Linked DNA regions of Homo sapiens: region 1 is linked to region 2. The links come from fine-mapping of genetic effects on gene expression. A gene starts in region 2. The other region holds a variant in brackets. All regions are shown on one strand. Distances are between the middles of the regions.

Region 1 (9,966 bases), 23 kb before region 2:
AACTTCAATGTAAAACCTAAAACTATAAAAATCCTGAAAGATAAACTAGAAAACACCACTATAGACTAGGCACTGGCAAAGAATTTATGATGAAGATGCTAAAAGCAACTGCAACAAAAATTAAAATTGACAAATGGGACTTAATTAAAAAGTTTCTGCAAAGCAAAAGAAACTTATCAACAGAGTAAACAGACAACTCACAAAATGGGAGAAAATATTTGCAAACTATGCATCTGACAAAGGTCTAATATTCAGAATCTACAAGAAACTTAAATCTACAAGCAAAAAAAACCCATTAAAATGTGAGCAAAAGACATAAACATTTTTCAAAATGAGACATATATACGGCAAAGAAGCATATGAAAAAATGCTCAACATCACTAATCACCAGAGAAATGCAAATCAAAATCACAATGACATACCAGCTCACACCAGTAAGAATGGCTACTATTAAAATGTCAAAAAAACAAGAGATGCTGGCAAGACTGCAGATAAAAGGGAATGCTTATATACTGCTGGTGGGAATGTAAATTAGCTCAGACACTATGGAAAGCGGTTTAGCAATTTCTCAAAGAACTTAAAACAGAATTAACATTCCATCCAGCAATCCCATTATTGGGTATATACCCAAAGGAATATAAACTCTTCTACCATAAAGACCCATGCACATGTATGTTCAATGCAGCCCTATTCACCAAAGGAAAGACATGTAATTAACCTAAATGAGCATCAGTGGTAGACTGGATAAAGAAAATGTGGTACATATATACCATGGAATAGTATGCAGCCATAAAAAAAAACAAAATCATGTCCTTTAGAGCAACATGGAGCTGGAGGCCATTATCCTAAGTGAACTAACGCAAGAACAGAAAACCAAACACTGCATATTCTCACTTATCAGTGGGAGCTAAACACTGAGTACACATGGATGCCAAGAAGGAAACAATAGACATTGAGGCCTAATTGAGGGTGGAGGGTGGGAAGAGGGTGAGGATCAAAAAATTACCTAGTAGATACTATGCTACTTACCTGGGTGACAAAATAATATGTACATAAAACCCCCATGATACACAATTTATCTATAGATCCAACCTGCACATGTACCCCCAAAACTAAAAGTTAAAAAAAAAAGTTTTAGTGAGTGTTATAATTGAGAAAGCTTAAGAGAGGCCAGATGCCTAGAGAACAAACGTCTCATGTCTAGAGAGATGAATATATACAGCAGCTAGAAAAGCCCCTACTAAAACTGTGATGACAGTTATGGATCAACTAAGACTGAGAATCTTATCATAATCATCTCACGTTCAGTTAACCTATTACTTACTTCCTTTCTTTTTATAGAAATATAAACAAATATAAAATATAGCAAACAGCTTTCTTAACAGCAAATTAATTTAATCACTCTTTCCTCTGCAAACTATTATTTTATATTTCCATAGTTTGTCTTAAATATTACTTAGACATGTTTTCTCTCATACTTAATTCACTATATGTTCTAAAGGAAACAATTTCTTAATCATTTTTGTATTATCCCAGCTGTGCATTTCCTGGGTACTAGATATTGAATAAATAATGATTGGACAAATAAAGAATGTCCACATGATTTATTCAAACTGAGCCTGCCGGTCCTCATGTAGCAGAATCCTCTGCTCCTTATTCACTGGCTGCATGAACATCCATCCTTATAAGCAGGAATCAAAGATTAAAGTAAAGATATTCTGCATAGAATATTTTGCTTATTCTCTCATCTCCTTTTCTTATCTAAAAACTGTCTATATTTTAAAACACTGATTTTTGTATACTTGCTTTATTGGGGGGGGCATACTTCCTCATTTTACATCAATGTCCATTTTCTCAAAAAAGCACAAAGACAGTTAAAAATTTTCTTTGCTACAAAGTAAAGAAAATATATTGATTTAGGTTAGTATTACATTACTACATAAGAGCATATAATAGTGCTATGAATAAGCCATTGATTTTGAGAGTTAAAAATTTTCTTTGCTGCCAGGCGCAGTGGCTCATGCCGGTAATCCCAGCACTTTGGGAGGCTGAGGCGGGAGGATCATCTGAGGTCAGGAGTTCGAGACCAGTCTCAACATGGAGAAACCCCATCTCTACTAAAAATACAAAATTAGCTGGGCATGGTGGTGCATGCCTGTAATCCCAGCTACTCAGGAGGCTGAGGCAGGAGAATTGCTTGAACCTGGGAGGCAGAGATTGTGGTGAGCCGAGATCACGCCATTGCACTCCAGCCTGGGCAACAAGAGCAAAACTCTGTCTCAAAAAAAAAGAAAATTATTTGCTATAAATTAGAGAAAATACATTAAGATTTAGGTTAGTATTACATTACTATATAAGAGAATACAATAGTGCTACAAATAAGCCACTGATTTTGATGCCTTTCCCCTAAAAAAGTGGTTTTCATCAATGCAACACCTATATACAGCTAAGAATTGAGTACAACTGAAAGTACCAGAATGACAAAATTCCCATCACGAGGCAATTTATTTATGGTGACCTGCCGCATTAACACATGAAAAATTATTAATTTGCCGATAACTTCTGAATCCAAAAAAAAATCCTAAAAGAAGCTGGATATTAGCAAAACAGACTAATTTCATAAACAGTAATGATATTTCATGGAGAAGAAAAAGGAAGTGGGATTAGGGAGTAAAAATAAAAGAGGGAATGAAAAGGAGAAGGGAGAGGAAAAGAAGGGACAGGTAAAGACAAAGAATTTAACATTTATTGCACACTTTTATGTTTTAGGCACTATGCTAAATACTTTAATTCTCACAAAACCTGTCAGCAGGAGGTAGTATTTTTAGCCTAACTTAAAGATGATGAAACTAAGGCTTAGAGAGGTTAAGTAACTTTTTCAAGAGAAAACAGAGCTGGGGCTAGAGCTTGGTTCTGTCTGATTCCAAAATGCATGCCTTTAATCAACACATTTGACTGAGTCCACATAAGCAGTTAATGTTCAATGAAAAGTCTTAACACATAGTTCTATCCAGCTGTCCTAGAACCCAGAAGACCTAGCACTAGAATTAAAACATTTAGAGATAAATAAACAAACGTGAGGGTCTAAAGAGGATCCAGAAGCAAAAGATCAAAGCCAAGATATTCATAAAATTCCTCAGTATAAAATGGCTAAAAAGTAATTAAGGATATGTGGTTAAAGATACCGTAAGAAATACGAAGAGGCTGACCCACAGGAAGCTAACAATATAGTAGAGAAAAAAGACAAAGTGAGGAGTTAGAAGAAGAAACTATTCAAACTTGGGAGATAGCTAGAAGGATAAGAAATGGTTTCATGCAAGACATGGAACTTGAGCTGGACCTTGAAATAGAGTATGATTGCAGAAAGCACAGATGAGGGAGGAGCTTTTCACAGAGACAGAATAACAGAACAAAGGCATGGAGCCAAACATTAAAAAGCACCTGTTTTGGGGGAGCAGTTCAGTGTAGCTGGAGAAAGGGGTGTATGGAGGAGGAAGAGATGAGTGGACAGGCTGAGGACTGACCTGCAGGACTTGGATGTTACACAAAAGATTCTGAACTCCCTTCTTTACCTAAAATATAAGCATTGAAGTTCTCCAGGAAAGGAATAAAATGAGCAGACAGACATGTTAAAAATATAAAGAACTTCATTAAAAGGGAATTGAACAGATGACAAAATGGAGTTTAGAAAACTACTTCAATTAGCACAGGACTGAAAAAATTCATTGCCGAGTGATGGCACAGAGAGAAGCCAGGTACTAAAGAGTAGTTTAAATACCACCTCCCCTGTAAAGTTCCAAGCAGGGGTCCCTCCCACCTCTGCACTCCTAAATCACACTATTCATGTTATATTACAATTATTGGCTTACCTGTGTTTCTTCCCTTAAAGATCCTTATGGTAACAACCAACCTTCATTCATTTTAATACCCCCAGTACCTAACTTGGTGAAAGAAGATATAAGCATTTGCAGGCCAGGTGCAGTGCTTCACACCTGTAATCCCAGTACTTTGGGAGGCCGAGGCGTGTGGACCACTTGAGGTCAGGTGTTCAAGACCAGCCTGGCCAACATGGTAAAACCTCATCTCTATTAAAAATACAAAAATTAGCCAGGCGTGGTGGCTCACGCTTGTAATTCCAGCTACTTGGGAGGCTGAGGCAGGAGAATCACTTGAACTCAGAAGGTGGAGTTGCGGTGGTTGCAGTGAGCCGAGATTGCACCACTACACTCCAACCTGAGCAACAGAGCAAGACTCCATCTCAAAAAAAAAAAAAAAAAAATTTGCAGAATGAAACATCTCAGATGTGTTTACTCATTAATGAGATATGACTTCAGGATGAGATTGGTTCCAAATTATACTTCATATAAGGCACCAAGTTGTGGTCATTTGGTGGCTGAAAGAGATGCCAGGGGAAAATTCCTCTACTTTGCCCTCTCCCTCTCCCTCTCCTTCTCCCCA[C/T]GGTCTCCCTCTCCCTCTCCCTCTCCCCACAGTCTCTGTCTCCCTCTCTATCCACGGTCTCCCTCTGATGCCGAGCCGAAGCTGGACTGTACTGCCGCCATCTCTGCTCACTGCAACCTCCCTGCCTGATGCTCCTGCCTCAGCCTGCCGAATGCCTGCGATTGCAGGCGCGTGCCGCCACGCCTGACTGGTTTTCGTATTTTTTTGGTGGAGACGGGGTTTCGCTGTGTTGGCCGGGCTGGTCTCCAGCTCCTAACCACGAATGATCTGCCAGCCTCGGCCTCCCGAGGTGCCAGGACTGCAGATGGAGTCTCGTTCACTCAGTGCTCAATGTTGCCCAGGCTGGAGTGCAGTGGCGTGATCTCGGCTCGCTACAACCTCCACCTCCCAGCCGCCTGCCTTGGCCTCCCAAAGTGCCGAGATTGCAGCCTCTGCCCGGCCACCACCCCGTCTGGGAAGTGAGGAGCATCTCTGCCTGGCCGCCCATCGTCTGGGATGTGAGGAGCCCCTCTGCCCGGCTGCCCAGTCTGGGAAGTGAGGAGCGCCTCTTCCCGGCCGCCATCCCATCTACGAAGTGAGGAGCATCTCTGCCCGGCCGCCCATCGTCTGAGATGTGGGGAGCACCTCTGCCCCGCCGCCCCGTCTGGGATGTGAGGAGCACCACTGCCCGGCCGCAACCCCGTCTGGGAGGTGAGGAGCGTCTCTGCCCAGCTGCCCCGTCTGAGAAGTAAGGAGCCCCTCCGCCCGGCAGCTGCCCTGTCTGAGAAGTGAGGAGCCCCTCCGCCCAGCAGCCGCCCCATCTGGGAAGTGAGGAGCATCTCCGCCCGACAGCCGCCCCGTCCGGGAGGTGGGGGGCAGCCCCCGCCCGGCCAGCCTCCCCGTCCGGGAGGTGGGGGGCGTCTCCGCTCAGCCGCCACCCCGTCCGGGAGGTGAGGGGCGCCTCTGCCCGGCCGCCCCTTCTGGGAAGTGAGGAGCCCCTCTGCCCGGCCGCCACCCCGTCTGGGAGGTGTATCCAACAGCTCACTGAGAACGGGCCATGATGATGATGCGGTTTTGTCGAATACAAAAGGGGGAAATGTGGGGAAAAGATAGAGAAATCAGATTGTTGCTGTGTCTGTGTAGAAAGAAGTAGACATAGGAGACTCCATTTTGTTCTGTACTAAGAAAAATTCTTCTGCCTTGGGATGCTGTTGGGGTATGGTGTAAGATCTATGACCTTACCCCCAACCCGGTGCTCTCTGAAACATGTGCTGTGTCCACTCAGGGTTAAATGGATTAAGGGCGGTGCAAGATGTGCTTTGTTAAACAGATGCCTGAAGGCAGCATGCTCGTTAAGAGTCATCACCACTCCCTAATCTCAAGTGCCCAGGGATACAAACATTGCGGAAGGCCCCAGGGTCCTCTGCCTAGGAAAACCAGAAACCTTTGTTCACTTGTTTGTCTGCTGACCTTCCCTCCACTGTTGTCCTGTGACCCTGCCAAATCCCCCTCTGCGAGAAACACCCAAGAATGATCAATAAAAAAAATAAATAAAAATAAATAAATAAATAAAAGAAAAAGAAAAAAAAAAAGAGATGCCAGGAAGAAGTATCTCTTAATTCCTTGTTTTTCACTTGCCACTGGGCATTATGCACATACCACTATTTCTCTTGAGAAACTCATAAAGATATCAGCTACGGTTTGGGTGCAGTCATGCATTGCCTAGAAAAAAACCCTGCCCAGAAAAATACCTTAATACTATCAAAATCCCACAATTTCTCCTAACATCTGTATTAGTTTCCTAGATGTACAGTGGGATTTGGCCGTTTATCATTCTGGCAAATTTACAAAAGTAAACCTCAAAAAATATGATAAAATGTTCAAGTTTAAAAAAGCATTGAACAGTTATCTGGTATATGTGGGTGCGCAGTGGTTGTCATAAAGGGTTATGAGGAATTTCTGTATGTTTCATTTATTTCTGTAAAGTGTGACTTTTTCTTCTGAGTATACACCTCTTTTGTGTTCAGAAAAAATATATATTTTTAAGAAGCATTGAATATCTGTCACCTCAAAGTTACTCCAACAATCTGTGGTTTTTAGATCTTTGCAACAGAAAAGATGTTTAATATTTTCTTATGATCATACTCAGGCAAATTAGTTGATGATATGCTATAATGCCAGTCTTATATCTTTAGTACATTACATAAGGCAAAGTAAACTATAGAAGGAAAAGTTGATAGGAATGATACCTAAGTTAATTAAACTGATAAAAGTTATCACTATCAAAATCCATCTCCTAGTATGTTGCTTTCCCTAACAGTTCTCCATAATTACAAATTAAAAGTCAATCAGAGGCCAGGCACAGTGGCTCACACCTGTAATCCCAGCACTTTGAGAGGCTGAGGTGTGAGGATCACCTGAGGTCAGGAGTGCGAGAACAGCCTGACCAATGTGGTGAAACCCCGTCTCTATTAAAAATACAAAAATTAGCCAGGCACGGTGGCAGGTGCCTGTAAGTCCCAGCTACTTGGGAGGCTAAAGCAGGAGAATCTCTTGAACCTGGGAGGTAGAGGTTGCAGTGAGCCAAGATTACGCCACTGCACTCCAGCAGAGCAACAGAGGGGGACTCCATCTCAAAAAAAAAAAAAGACAATCAGTAACTCAAAAAAAAAAAAAGTCAAATAGTAACAGAAGTATGGGTTCGCAATTCCAAAACAACTGTATGTGTAGATTAGGGTTGAACAAATAATCAAACATGTTGCAGATAAAGAGAGTCAGATTTCTTACTGTCAAAGAAATAAACTACAATTAGAGAAGGGAGGAAGACTAGAATGAACTCTGTGGTATTGGATGAAACTCATGGTTTCTTTACATAAGTGTAGGTGTACATATAGATTTAGAAATAGATATAGGTATATGCATGGGTTAGTATATACACAGAAATCCTAGATCTGTCCACTAATAAGATAAACATCTCAGTAGCAATAAGCACACCAAGCACCCGGATCTTGGTTTTGAATATCATTTTACAATAAACCAGGGCTTCCTGAAAAAGTGGTTGATTCTAGGGCTGGGGCAGGGAAAATATAAGATAAGCCTGGATCATCTTACAGTGTCAGAAAGTAAGAAAGTTCTCAAAAAAGGATAAGCCTGTCAAAAGGTTCCAGGAACCAACCTGAAAGAGTTCTCAATGACCCAGGAGGGAACAATTTGAGCAATAAAAGAAATAAAAATAGTATTGGATTATAATCCAGTAATAAAATAAATATCCATAATTCCATACAGATATAAGCAAATAACTGAATAAATAAATAAATGGGGAGAAAAAGACACAGCTCTTCCATATAGAAACATTCCAATCAATAAATGTAGAAAGAATGGGGAAAATAGAGAATCACCATCAGAGCACCATAGCCATAATTGTTGCAGACAAGATGGATACTAAAATCAGTGGGCAAAAATTTGAGCAGAAACAGTATATTTGCAAAGTCTCAAAGTAAATTCCTCCCCAAGATATTTATTAACTACAAAGGGAACAGGAGTAACTGCATAGTAGAAAAACACAGCAGAGACTACATTAACCAAATGATCTATGTTAATTTCGCCAAGAATAATGCATATTGATATCATGTACCTCTGATATATTTGCTAAAAATATAGTATTTTTAGACTATTAATTTGTAGCTAGTCTTACCAAAAATGTATAACCTTGCTGTAATCATGAGAAATCATAAGTCAAACCCAACTTGAGAGACATTCTACAAAATAACTGACCAGTATTCTTCAAAAGTAACAAAATCGTGAAAAAAAAAAAAAGAAAAACCTAAGGAATCATCACAAACTAGAGAGGACTAACAAGACATGACAATTAATGCAATGTGGGATGCTGAGTTAGATACTGAACCAGAAAAAAATGAACTTGAGTGGAAAAACTGGTGAATTCTGAACATAGTTAACAGTACTGTACCAGAAGCAGCTGCAGTCAGTGGCTATCACAGAGAAGAATGAAAACGGCAAATGAAATTCTGAACCTTCAACTGAGGTATCCAGGTTCTCACACTGGGACTCACTAGGTGGATGGCTAAACCCACAGAGAGTGAGGAAAAGCAGGGTGGGGAGACGGCCCCTTCTGAAGCCAGGGAAGGCCCTACCCCAGCCAAGGGAGGCAGTGAGTGTGCGACCCCACCCAGGAAACCACGTTTTTCCCATAGATCTTTGCAACCTGCAGATCAGGAGATCCCCCCCTGAGCCCACACCACCAGGACCTTGGGTCCAAAGCATAGCGCTATGCGGAGTCTCAACAGAGTGGCTCTGGTATGCACAGAGACCCAGGAATTTTGCATACTCTGGCCCTGGGAATTCCAGCAAGGCGGGAAATCCATCCATGCCTTCCCCTAGGAAGGGGGCTGAATCCAGGGGGCCAAGCAGCATCGTTCTGCAGGCCCCACTCCCATGGCACCTCACATGTTAACACCCACTGGCTTGGAATTCCAGCTGGCCAGTGGCAGGAAGCTGGAGACTGCCTGAAATGAACCAAGTTCCTGAGGGGCTTGGGAGTGGGGGCAGCTGCCATCTCTGTGGTTCCAGCCTGCCGGCTCCTCTGGGGAGTCCAGGAGGTCTGGAACGGGAAGAGTTTTCCACAACACAGCAGACTGTGGTCAGACTGCTCCTCTAAGTGGGACCCTGCTTCATCCCTCCTCACTAGGTGGGGCTTCCCTGCAGGAATTTCAGCTACACTAGCCTGAGTTATATGAACAGATCTCTGATCACTCCCTGGGACTGAGCCACCAAGAGGGGAGGGGCGGGGGGGAAGCGGTGACTGTATTTGCAGTTCAGCCAACTTAGCCTTTCCAGCCTGCTGGCTCTGGAGAGTCCAGGCAGTCTGTACAAGGAGGATTCCCCTCAGCTCAGCACACCCACTCAGCCAAAGGGCAGCCAGACTGCTTCTTTAAGCAGGTCCCTGATCCTGTTCCCCCTGACTGGGTGAGAACTCCCAGTAGGGGCTCCAGACACCTTCTACAGGAGCATTCAGGCCAACATCTGTTCAGTGTGCCCCTGGGACAAAGCTCCGAGAAGAAAGAGGAGGCTGTCACCTTTGCTGTTTTGCAGCCTTCACCGGTAATATCTCCAGGTGTGGGAGGACCAAGGAGATTAGGGTCTGGAGTGGAACCCCAACAACCACAGCAGCCCTATGGAAGAGTGACCTGTTAAAAGAAAAACAAACGAACGGAAAACAATAACAACAACAATAACATCAACAAAGAAGATCCCACAAAAACACCATTCAAAGGTCAGCAACCTCAAAGATAGAAGGTAGATAAGCCCACAAAGATGAGGAAGAATCAATGCAAAAACGCTGAAAACTCAAAAATCCAGAGTGACTCCAGATGACTGCAACACCTCTCCAGCATGGGTACAGAACTAGGCTGAAGCTGAGATGACTGAAATGACAGAAGGAGGCTTCAGAAAATGGGTAATAAAAAGCTTCACTGAGCTAAAGGAGCATGTTCTAACCCAATGCAAAGAAGC
Region 2 (9,966 bases):
TATGAATAAACTATTTCAAAGAATAAACATATTTTCTATACTAACAGGAAAGAACAAACTAATATAATAATTTTCTCTTGAGAATATATCTTTGATATATACAAAAATTAAACTTCAGAATACCCAAATTTTTACCCTAAAAGTTATCAATAATCTAGCTGATTTTAAATTTACCAAAATAGTTTGTTTTCTTTTTTTTTTTTTTTTTTTTGAGACGGAGTTTCGCTCTGTCGCCGAGGCTGGAGTGCAGTGGAGCAATCTTGGCTCACTGCAACCTCCGCCTCCCAAGTTCAAGCGATTCTCCTGCCTCAGCCTCCCAAGTAGCTGGGATTACAGGCACTCACCACCACGCCCGGCTAATTTTAGTATTTTTAGTAGAGACAGGGTTTCACCATGCTGGTCAGGCTGGTCTCGATCTCCTCTGACCTTGTGATCCATCCGCCTCAGCCTCCCAAAGTGCTGGGACTACAGGCATGAGCCACTGTGCCTGGCCCAAAATAGTTTATTTTCTAAGTGCTGATACTGATTCAACAGTTTCAGTTATTCTACATTAACTACCCTAGGAATTACCATTTTTCACTTTTCCCACCAAATTTGAAGACTGATTTACCAGTTGCTCAGTCAGACAACCACAATGATGTACAGGAGACCCAGAATCAAAACATAAATGCCTATAGGGGGCCAGCAGTTAACCACAAATGAGTTAAGCAGGAACGACTGGGAGCTACAGTGACCTGGAGAGATCATGCCCAATATACGGGCACAGCCAATAATACTGAGCTTAACCAACTGCTGCTCAGGAAGGTGGTCTCTGAAGCTGTCAGATCTTCCCACTGTCACAAAAGCCAGAAATCTGGATTTTTATATGAAACATCTTGATTTTGAACTATTAACAACTAATTTAAAAGCTGATAAAACACAGTTCAAAGCAAAACATCTGTAGAGTGCCAGTTTGTGGCTCGTGCATTCTTCTTAAACACCTGCACTCTTCCCTTCTCTCTCTCCTTTCCCCATTTTCTCTCTCTCTCTCTCTCTTATGATGTTCCTCCCATCACTTTTTCCTCCAGAATATCCAAGCCTAAAGAATAAGGAAAAGGTAATGATATGTGGAATTAAAAAGCCAGAGAAAATACCAAAACTCAGCATCCTGTTACTAACTTAAAAAGTCTGAAAATCTTGCAGACTTAGTGATGCCATTTCAACTGGTGATAATACCTACTGTGCAAACAAAATCTTAACGCTTCTTCAGCAAGGAGCCTGGAGTGAGATCAAGTACTTGCATGAGCTAGGGAACCAAGTGGACTGGAGCTAGAGACCCAATTCTGCTACCTGCCTGTTACCTGTATTTCCTCATCATTTAAAAGCAAACAGTAGCTGGGCGCGGTGGCTCTCACCTGTAATCCCAGTACCTTGGGAGGCTGAAGCAGGCGGCTCACCTGAGGTCAGGAGTTCGAGACCAGCCTGACCAACAGGGCAGAAAACCTGCTTCTACTAACAATACAAAACCTAGGCTGGGCGCAGTGGCTCACGCCTGTAATCCCAGCACTTTGGGAGGCCAAGGCAGGCGGATCACCTGAGGTTGGAAGCTCGAGACCAGCCTGACCAACATGGAGAAGCCCCATCTCTACTAAAAATACAAAATTAGTGAGGCGTGGTGGTGATGCATGCCTGTAATCCCAGCTACTCAGGAGGCTGAGGCAGGAGGATCGCTTGAACCTGGGTGGCAGAGGTTGCGGTCAGCCAAGATCATGCCATTGCACTGCAGCCTGGGCAACAAGAGCAAAAACTCCATCTCAAAAAAAAAAAAATACAAAACTTAGCCAGGCGTGGTGGCAGGCACCTGTAGTCCCAGCTACTCTGGAGGCTGAAGCAGGAGAATGGTTTGAACCTGGGAGGCAGAGGTTGCAGTGAGCTGAGATTGCGCCACTGCAATCCAGCCTGGGTGACAGAGCAAGACTCCGTTTCAAAAAAAAAAAAAAAGCAGCAATCTAAAAGTTTGTTACAAGAACTAAATAAAATATTATCATATATAAAATATCTAGGCCTAGTATGTGCCTGGCAGATGGCTGGTGTTTAGTAAATGGGTGTTAAATACATAGATATGGTGTATTATAATTCTTACAGCTTGTTACTTTTGAAAAGAAAACACTGGAGAGACAAAAACTTCCATCTCAGGGTCTATCTGATTCAGTTTGTGTGCATGCTCTCCCTGCTGTTTCTTCCCTTAAACAGGTTTTAAAACATGCTGTTTTTAGACATTATTCCATTATTCCTATGACCAATGATTTGCAAGTGGTTTATGACTCATCCTCAAATGCATAGCAGTAACTACAGAAGATATAAAAGTATAATTAAGATGCCTAAAATATTTCTGGAATGAGGCCCTAATTCTTCCCAGTCAAGCTTGTACCCTTTTATCACCATCCAGTTGCTTTTTTTATAAAATAAAAAAGTATAAATTATACAGCAAAAGTCATGTACAAAAGTCAAACTTGTCACCACCTTTCAAATATAAAAATATTACAGTGGCTGGCTTGTTGGGTTATAGAGCATTAGGCCCAAACTCCCTGACATAGTTTATTTTGCCCTTCCTGGGGCAACCACCACTAATCTCTGCAGCCTCGTCTCTCACCACTCCCTCCCTTCTCCCAAACTCCCCAAATACACTATATATTCTATACACTAAACTCTCGTACATACTGTTTCCTCAACCAGAGCTCACTTTTTCCTCCCTCAAGCCCTCTCCTCAGCCAGTCTCTTCCCTAATTAATCCTAAATATTAGAATCCAGATTAAATATTTCGTTATGTCCTTCAGTCTCAGCTTACATGTCACTTCCAAGATTTCCCAGATCTTTTCCTCATCTCCACCATACAAACTTAGGGTTAGGAGCACCTTTTTATATGTTCCTATAACACCTTACATATACCCATCTAAGAAAGAAGCTGATAGTATAGAATTCAACAAGAAAAAGACCACATGCTTATGTGCATTTTTATATATATATATATATATATATATATACACACACATATATACATACATATACACACGTATATTACACTTTATTTCCTAACAAAATTAAAGACTCTAGTAAAATCTCAGAAGCACTACTTGGTGAACATGCATCCTTTTGCCTTCTGACTCTTACTCCACGACGGCCTAATTTCGAAGACTGCCAAAGGATATCAAACACATATAAAAAGTGTTTAAATCTTTCCACTCTGATGTCATATAATTTAAATAAGAATGTTTAAATTAGCAAGATGATTTTAACTTGAACAAAGTTATTTTACAAATACTTTTACTTTGAAAAGTTCAGAAAACACTTTTTGCTGTTTTCTTCAGAGCTTCAAAAATTTGATGCGGTTCATTACCTATAATTTGAAAAAACTGCCCTACATCATAGGATTTTTAATCTGAGGGCTCCCCATTTAAATAGATATGCCACTTTCCACTAGATCCTGATATTCAGGAGAACTGAAGTCATCTCTTTTTCATCTTTGTATTTCATAGCCTATCACACCGTCTGGAAGAAGGGTCTCCAAAAATATTTGTTGAACAACTGAATTTTACCAAGTAGTTCAACAAATCTTTTGTGCACCTACCATGTCCCATGACCCTCAGCCTTCTTATGTTATCTCAAATAATGCTAATGATACATACTCTGGGGAGATCAGCCAAGGTTTTGTCTTTATCTGAAAAAAAAAATTATATACGTTTGGGAATGGGGGATAGGAAAGGTATTCTAAGAGGTAAATGGAATACAGGCAGGTTTTGTAAACAAGACATACATAAAGGACAGAATACATTTATAGAATCTATATCTTGCAATAATAAATTACAAGTTTGGGATCTTTTAAAGAATATTCCATTCATATTTAAGATATGTTATATTTATAATGAGCAAGATTCTGCTGAAAAGTTAAACTGAGTTTGCACTTCCTGAACAAAGCTAATTTCTGGAACTCCCCTAGGCTGTGACATTTGTAGTAATGTGTTCAGAGAAATGAATACAGTTTAAGTAAATAGCCAAATAACTGTGACTCAATGATCAATCAAATCTAAGAATGCATTTTTAAAACTATTTTAACCATAAATGTAAAGAAGTTCACCCAGGGTACTAGTAGAACTCTAATAGCATAATGAAATAAAATATAAAAAGCCATCAATTCATTTATATTTTATTGACAACACCTAAATATTCTCCATAATTCTAGAATTATATTCTACCTAGTTAAAGCAAATAAAATGCATAGCAAGAGGGAGGAGAGCTTTTCACAGGTAGCAAATTTCACAAGAAATAAGCAAAGTGTAGAATTATAGTCTACCTAATTAAAGCAAATAAAATGCATAGCAAGAGGGAGGAGAGCTTTTCACAGGTAGCAAATTTCACCAGAAATAAGCAAAGTGCAGAAATGTTGGGGAAAATTGTAATCCTAAGGTATTAACTAAACGTAACTGAAAAAAAGATTAAATTCAGCAAGCCATTTTTTTAAAAAAGCATCATAAAATAAATCTCTGCTAAACAGATTTTTACCTATATATTTATAATTAACAATTCTGAACAGACTAAAAACTAAATAAAACTAGCACAGTAATTTAGCCTTTGATTTATATTTGAAACACTTTTCCTCCAGTATCCTATTGAGACCCCTCCAAACATTTTTAAATGCTTCCCCAACCCCCTCAGACGACTTGTTTAAATTAATTGTATTCACAAACCCCTATGTTCAAATTCACAGTCCCTTCTAATCACAAATTTTCCATCCTCCTCAGAGGTTTACTGAGCGTCAACTATACATAGTACATTTAGAAAATATAAAAACATTCTACATTCAAGATCCTTTCCTCTGAAGTCTTACAATCCAGCCCTAGGAAAAGGTCAAAATGTCCAAAGTGTGATACTCCAAGTATTCAAGCAGTAAAGATCTTCAACCATATTCAGTCCTTCTGTTCCCCTTCTTGGAATGCTTTTCCCCTGGCTGGATTCTTCTCATCTTTCAAATCTCAGAGATAGTTCATGACACCATTGAGCTATTTTCTACAGTAGCAACCCATTCCTTTCCTTCACTGCTTTTTTCCCAGTTTGTAATTACATATTTGATTGCTTGTTTGCTGGTTTATTATCCGTATCCAGTAAGAGAATACTCTACAAAAACATGAACTCCACTGCATTGTCAGTGATTACCAAAGCACTCAATAAACACCTGATAAATTAATGCACAGGTCTGGTGTTCCGAAGAAAGGTCTGAGCTAGACACACTGGGATATAGATGATAATTTACCATGAAAACTGATTTTATAAATTACCAGTGGGACGTATGTAGGGTTTGAAGAGAACCTAGAATGAACACCTGAAAAGGCCCTATATTTAGAGTTCTGGTAGGATAGGTAAAGGAGACTGTCTCTCTCCTCCAATCCACTTTATGCTTTTTAACTGTGATATAACTATGCCACTTAAATATGACTGTGTAACTATTTTACAAGTATTACTGTCATCACCCCTTACTTCCCCTATTGGACGCTTAAGTTTCTTGGAAACAGAACTGATGTCTGCTCATCCCATGATACGCTCAGCATATTGCAGGAAGTAAGGTTAGATAATCATGAACCTGGAAAAAGGGCTTCTTACTAGGTAGCTGTGCCTGGCATTTCCGAGATTTCCAACGTGCACCCGCCAACTCCGCCGCCCTAATCGCAGAGCTGCCCGAGCCGCCGACTCCCCGGCAGGGGGCGCCGCACCCTCCTCCGAAGGCCGCTGCCGGCTGCAGTCCCCGCCCCCAGCCCCGCGGTCACCTGCAGCGGGTGCACTCAGGCCTCCGCTCGGCCGGCTCCACCGGCAGCTCCCACAGCCCGTCCGCACTGTCGTCGTCCGCCTCTGCGCCCAGGGCAGCCGCCGCCGGCACTGCGCCGCCCTCCCGCCGCTCCTTGTCGTTCGGCGTCTGAGAGCTTGAGGCCCCAGAAGGCCGCGCAACGGGCTCCTGGAGTGTTCGTGCCTCTTTCTGCGACTCCATGGCGGACACTCCGGTCAGGCCGTGGCATTGAAGCCCGGCTGCCGCCGGGGGGCGCCACGCGCTGTAGAAACCGGCCCGCGCCGCGTAGCGCAATGCCCGCACGCCACGTACGGGGGGCGGGTCTCCGAAGCCCAGGCTGGAGGTCCCACCCTGCCGCTGGGAAGGAACGAGCCCATTGGTCCGTGCCCAGTGGGACCGTTCACCTAGAACTGGGTAGGCAAGTGTGGGCAGTGTTGGAGTGCTGGTGAGGTTAAGTAGCGTCATTGGGAGAGGTAAGGGAAACCTCCCCGAGAGGACCCCAGTACCAAGCCCGAATTTAACTCCTTTAAAAGTTAAAATAAAATGGAATTCTGCATTTTCCGCCTTGGGATGGCAGTTTAAGAATTTGCAGGATTTCCACGCGTGCATGCATCGCAGGTGCGGCAGCTGATGCACTTATTATTTAAAGGCCAACAAAGGAGAGGTTATATCCACTGGGAACTACTCACAGCTGGTCCGTTTCCTTATGTGAATTTCCTGCTCTTCTATGTCTTGTGCTAATAAGACATCAAGCATGCTATTTTACACTGGACACCAGATATTTGTTAAATTAGATTTTTAGATCGTCCCCGATCAGGAAGCAATAGGAGAGCTGGCCCGGGGTACCAATAGGTTTTATGTATGAGGAAACAAGCCCTAGAAAGGTAACGTTGCCCAGGTATTTAACAACTACTGGATACGGCGGTATATAGCACAGCAGCTGTTTTTTAAAAGCCAAAATGAAATCTATGTTAGAATGAAGGCAGAAATACTATTTACCCAAAATGGGTATCGAATTCCTTTTGTTTATTAATGCTTTGTGTTACTTCCAGCAATACACAACATTAAAACAGAATTAAGCTTGGTTTTGATCAATCATGTGAATTAAGCTTAGGAATCACAGTTGTCTTAACTCTATAGTTGTAATAGATTAAATGTGAGGCAAAGTAGACAACACAGTAATAGAGCAAATACTGTATTTCTTAAAATGTTTATTTCACATTAGATTTTTCAGTCATCTTAAAATCAAGTTTGTGAATAAAATACCGTGCTGTTTTCAACTATCCTACGTTCTTTCCCCCCGGAAACAGCACCTCTCTTTTCCTTTGGAGCGTCCTATGTGAGGGATAGAAAAAGGCTGAAACACCCACCTGGTGATGGACGTAGAGTGGGAGAAAGAACTAGCAATTATGCCATTTGGAATCGGAGGATAAACAAAATCCAGAAACTGTAGGAAAGGAGATGAATCAGAAAATTCATCTTGTCTGTAGATTTAGGTTGGGGAACCAATTCTTTAACTGCCAAAATTAAATTCTCATGTGACTTATCTTTAAACGAAAGGAAGCTGCTCATCTTTAATTTCAAGAGGTGAAATGTGCTCAAGTCCTCTAAGGTCCCTTGAGACTCCCAATTGTGTGGTGTGAGAAGACAGATGATAAGGAAAAAAAAAAAAACTTTTTATCTAAGGAATGCGAGCAGTCATGTCTCACTCTCCCTTGAGCTAAATAATTACCTCTTGAAGGCACTTGCTATGCAGGCCCTAGACTGACACCGAGTAGCCATAAAACGCCGTATACCCTATAGTTCAACAATATGTATAGCCAATCACTAACCAATGTTATTTCTGTAAATAAATGACACTTCCTGAGACATAGCTTTTGTAATGCCCCCCTCTGCTGATTCGTTCTCTTTTCTTTAAAAACTCCAGCCCATTTTGTTCTCCAGAGCACTCTCCACAGCAACCTGGAAGTACGACCTAGGCTACAGTCCTCAACGTTGGCCCAAATAAACTCTCTATATTAATTTTGCCTCTGCTCCTTCCTTTTAGGTTGATGTGAGCCTACTTACTTGGGGCTTCCTTTTAACACCCCATATCAGATTATTGGCTTTACCCTTCAAAGTATTCAAAATCCAAACATTTATCTCACCTACTACTTCTGCCCTGGTTCAAGCCCCCGTCATCTCTTGCATAGAATATTGCCAAAGACCTAAGTGGTCTCCTGCTCCATCTCCGCTCCTTATGAAGAAAATCCCCTACAAGTCCATTGTCTCAGAGGCTGACCAAAATCAAAGAAAGCTTCCATCCAGGCAAGACACAGAGTTGAGAAAGGAGAGCCATTTTCCTCTATAGGAAGCAAGAAATTCACCCAATATCCAGGTTTGTGAACAATGACCTTCAGACGCCTGAGGAAACATGCAGGTGAGGTTACCACCTTGGGGCAGACCCAGGTATCAGACCATCAGTGACTCAGCTTCTGGGAAGTGCCAAGACACCAGAAAGGGAAGTAAAATATCCTTTATGGGATACAGACAACTTACTAGTGTCAAGATAATGTATTGAGGTGTTAATGTATGTTTTGTTTATCTCCCAACTTCAGGTAGAAAACCAGACTTTTATGCTCCTTTGCCTCAGAGGAGTTTGGGTAGTAAAGACTGAGGACAATCTTAGGTCCACGCCTGGTGTTGTGGGAAAAGGAGATCCTGTTACTGGTAGAGGAAAGGGCCTCAGTAATGTAAGGGATTGAATATCCTGCCAGGCCTGCAGTATGAGGATTCAGCATTGTATAAGATTTGATTTAAATGAAATAAAAACATGGTATTTTTTGCTATATTCATTTTCTATCACTGTGGAACTAATAACCACAAATTTAGTGGCTTTTTCCTTTGTTTTTTTTTTTTTTTTTGAGATGGAGTCTCGCTCTGCCGCCCAGGCTGGAGAGTAGTGGCGTGATCTGGGCTCACTGCGACCTCCGCCTCCCGGGTTCAAGCAATTCTGCCTCAGCCTCCCGAGTAGCTGGGACTACAGGCTGCGTGCCACCATGTCAGGCCAGTTCTTTTTTTTTTTTTTTTTTTTTTTTTTTTGAGACGGAGTCTCGCTCTGTTGCCCAGGTCGGACTGCGGACTGCAGTGGCGCAATCTCGGCTCACTGCAAGCTCCGCTTCCCGGGTTCACGCCATTCTCCTGCCTCAGCCTCCCGAGTAGCTGGGACTACAGGCGCCCGCCACCGCGCCCGGCTAATTTTTTGTATTTTTAGTAGAGACGGGGTTTCACCTTGTTAGCCAGGATGGTCTCGATCTCCTGACCTCATGATCCACCCGCCTCGGCCTCCCAAAGTGCTGGGATTACAGGCGTGAGCCACCGCGCCCGGCCCAGTTCTGTATTTTTAGTAGAGACAGGGTTTTACTGTGTTGATCAGGCTGGTCTTGAACTCCGGACCTCAGGTGATCCACCCGCCTCGGCCTCCCAAAGTGCTGGGATTACAGGACTGAGCCACCGCGCCTGGCCACTTATTTTTCTTTTAAGTGAAAACCAAGTTTATTAGGCAAGCAAAAGAATAACAAATGGCTACTCCACAGGCAGAGCAGCAGCTTAGGCTACTTCATCAAGGATACTTTTTTTTTTTTTAATTATTATTATACTTTAAGTTCTAGGGTACATGTGCACGACATGCAGGTTTGTTACATATGTATACATGTGCCATGTTGGTGTGCTGCACCCATCAACTCGTCATTTACATTAGGTCTATCTCCTAATGCTATCCCTCCCCGCTCCCCTCACCCCACAACAGGCCCTGGTGTGTGATGTTCCCCTTCCTGTGTCCAAGTGTTCTCATTGTTCAATTCCCACCTGTGAGTGAGAACATGCAGTGTTTGGTTTTCTGTCCTTGCGATAGTTTGTTGAGAATGATGGTTTCCAGCTTCACCCATGTCCCTACAAAGGATATGAACTCATCCTTTTTTATGGCTGCATAGTATTCCATGGTGTATATGTGCCACATTTTCTTAATCCAGTCTATCATTGATGGGCATTTGGGTTGGTTCCAAGTCTTTGCTAATGTGAATAGTGCCGCAATAAACATATGTGTGCATGTGTCTTTATAGCAGCATGATTTATAATCCTCTGGGTATATACCCAGTAATGGGATGGCTGGG

Evidence for each region. PIP is the estimated chance that this variant, and not a neighbour inherited with it, causes the effect.
Region 1: its variant is the best candidate, but not a certain one, in a credible set for the expression of DTWD2 in CD4 T cells (BLUEPRINT, PIP 0.58).

The regions. Positions count from the first base shown.
Region 1 is chr5:118,959,958-118,969,923 of GRCh38, forward strand. All of the region lies in intron 1 of DTWD2 (DTW motif tRNA-uridine aminocarboxypropyltransferase 2), which reads right to left. Among named protein-coding and RNA genes, the nearest start is that of MIR1244-2, 9.6 kb to the right of the region's middle. The variant C/T (reference allele first, on the strand shown) is at 4,459.
Region 2 is chr5:118,982,496-118,992,461 of GRCh38, forward strand. DTWD2 (DTW motif tRNA-uridine aminocarboxypropyltransferase 2) reads right to left here and starts at 6,052. Exons shown (of 6, transcript NM_173666.4): 1 at 5,799-6,052. The coding sequence starts at 6,016. RefSeq lists a silencer at 5,636-5,965.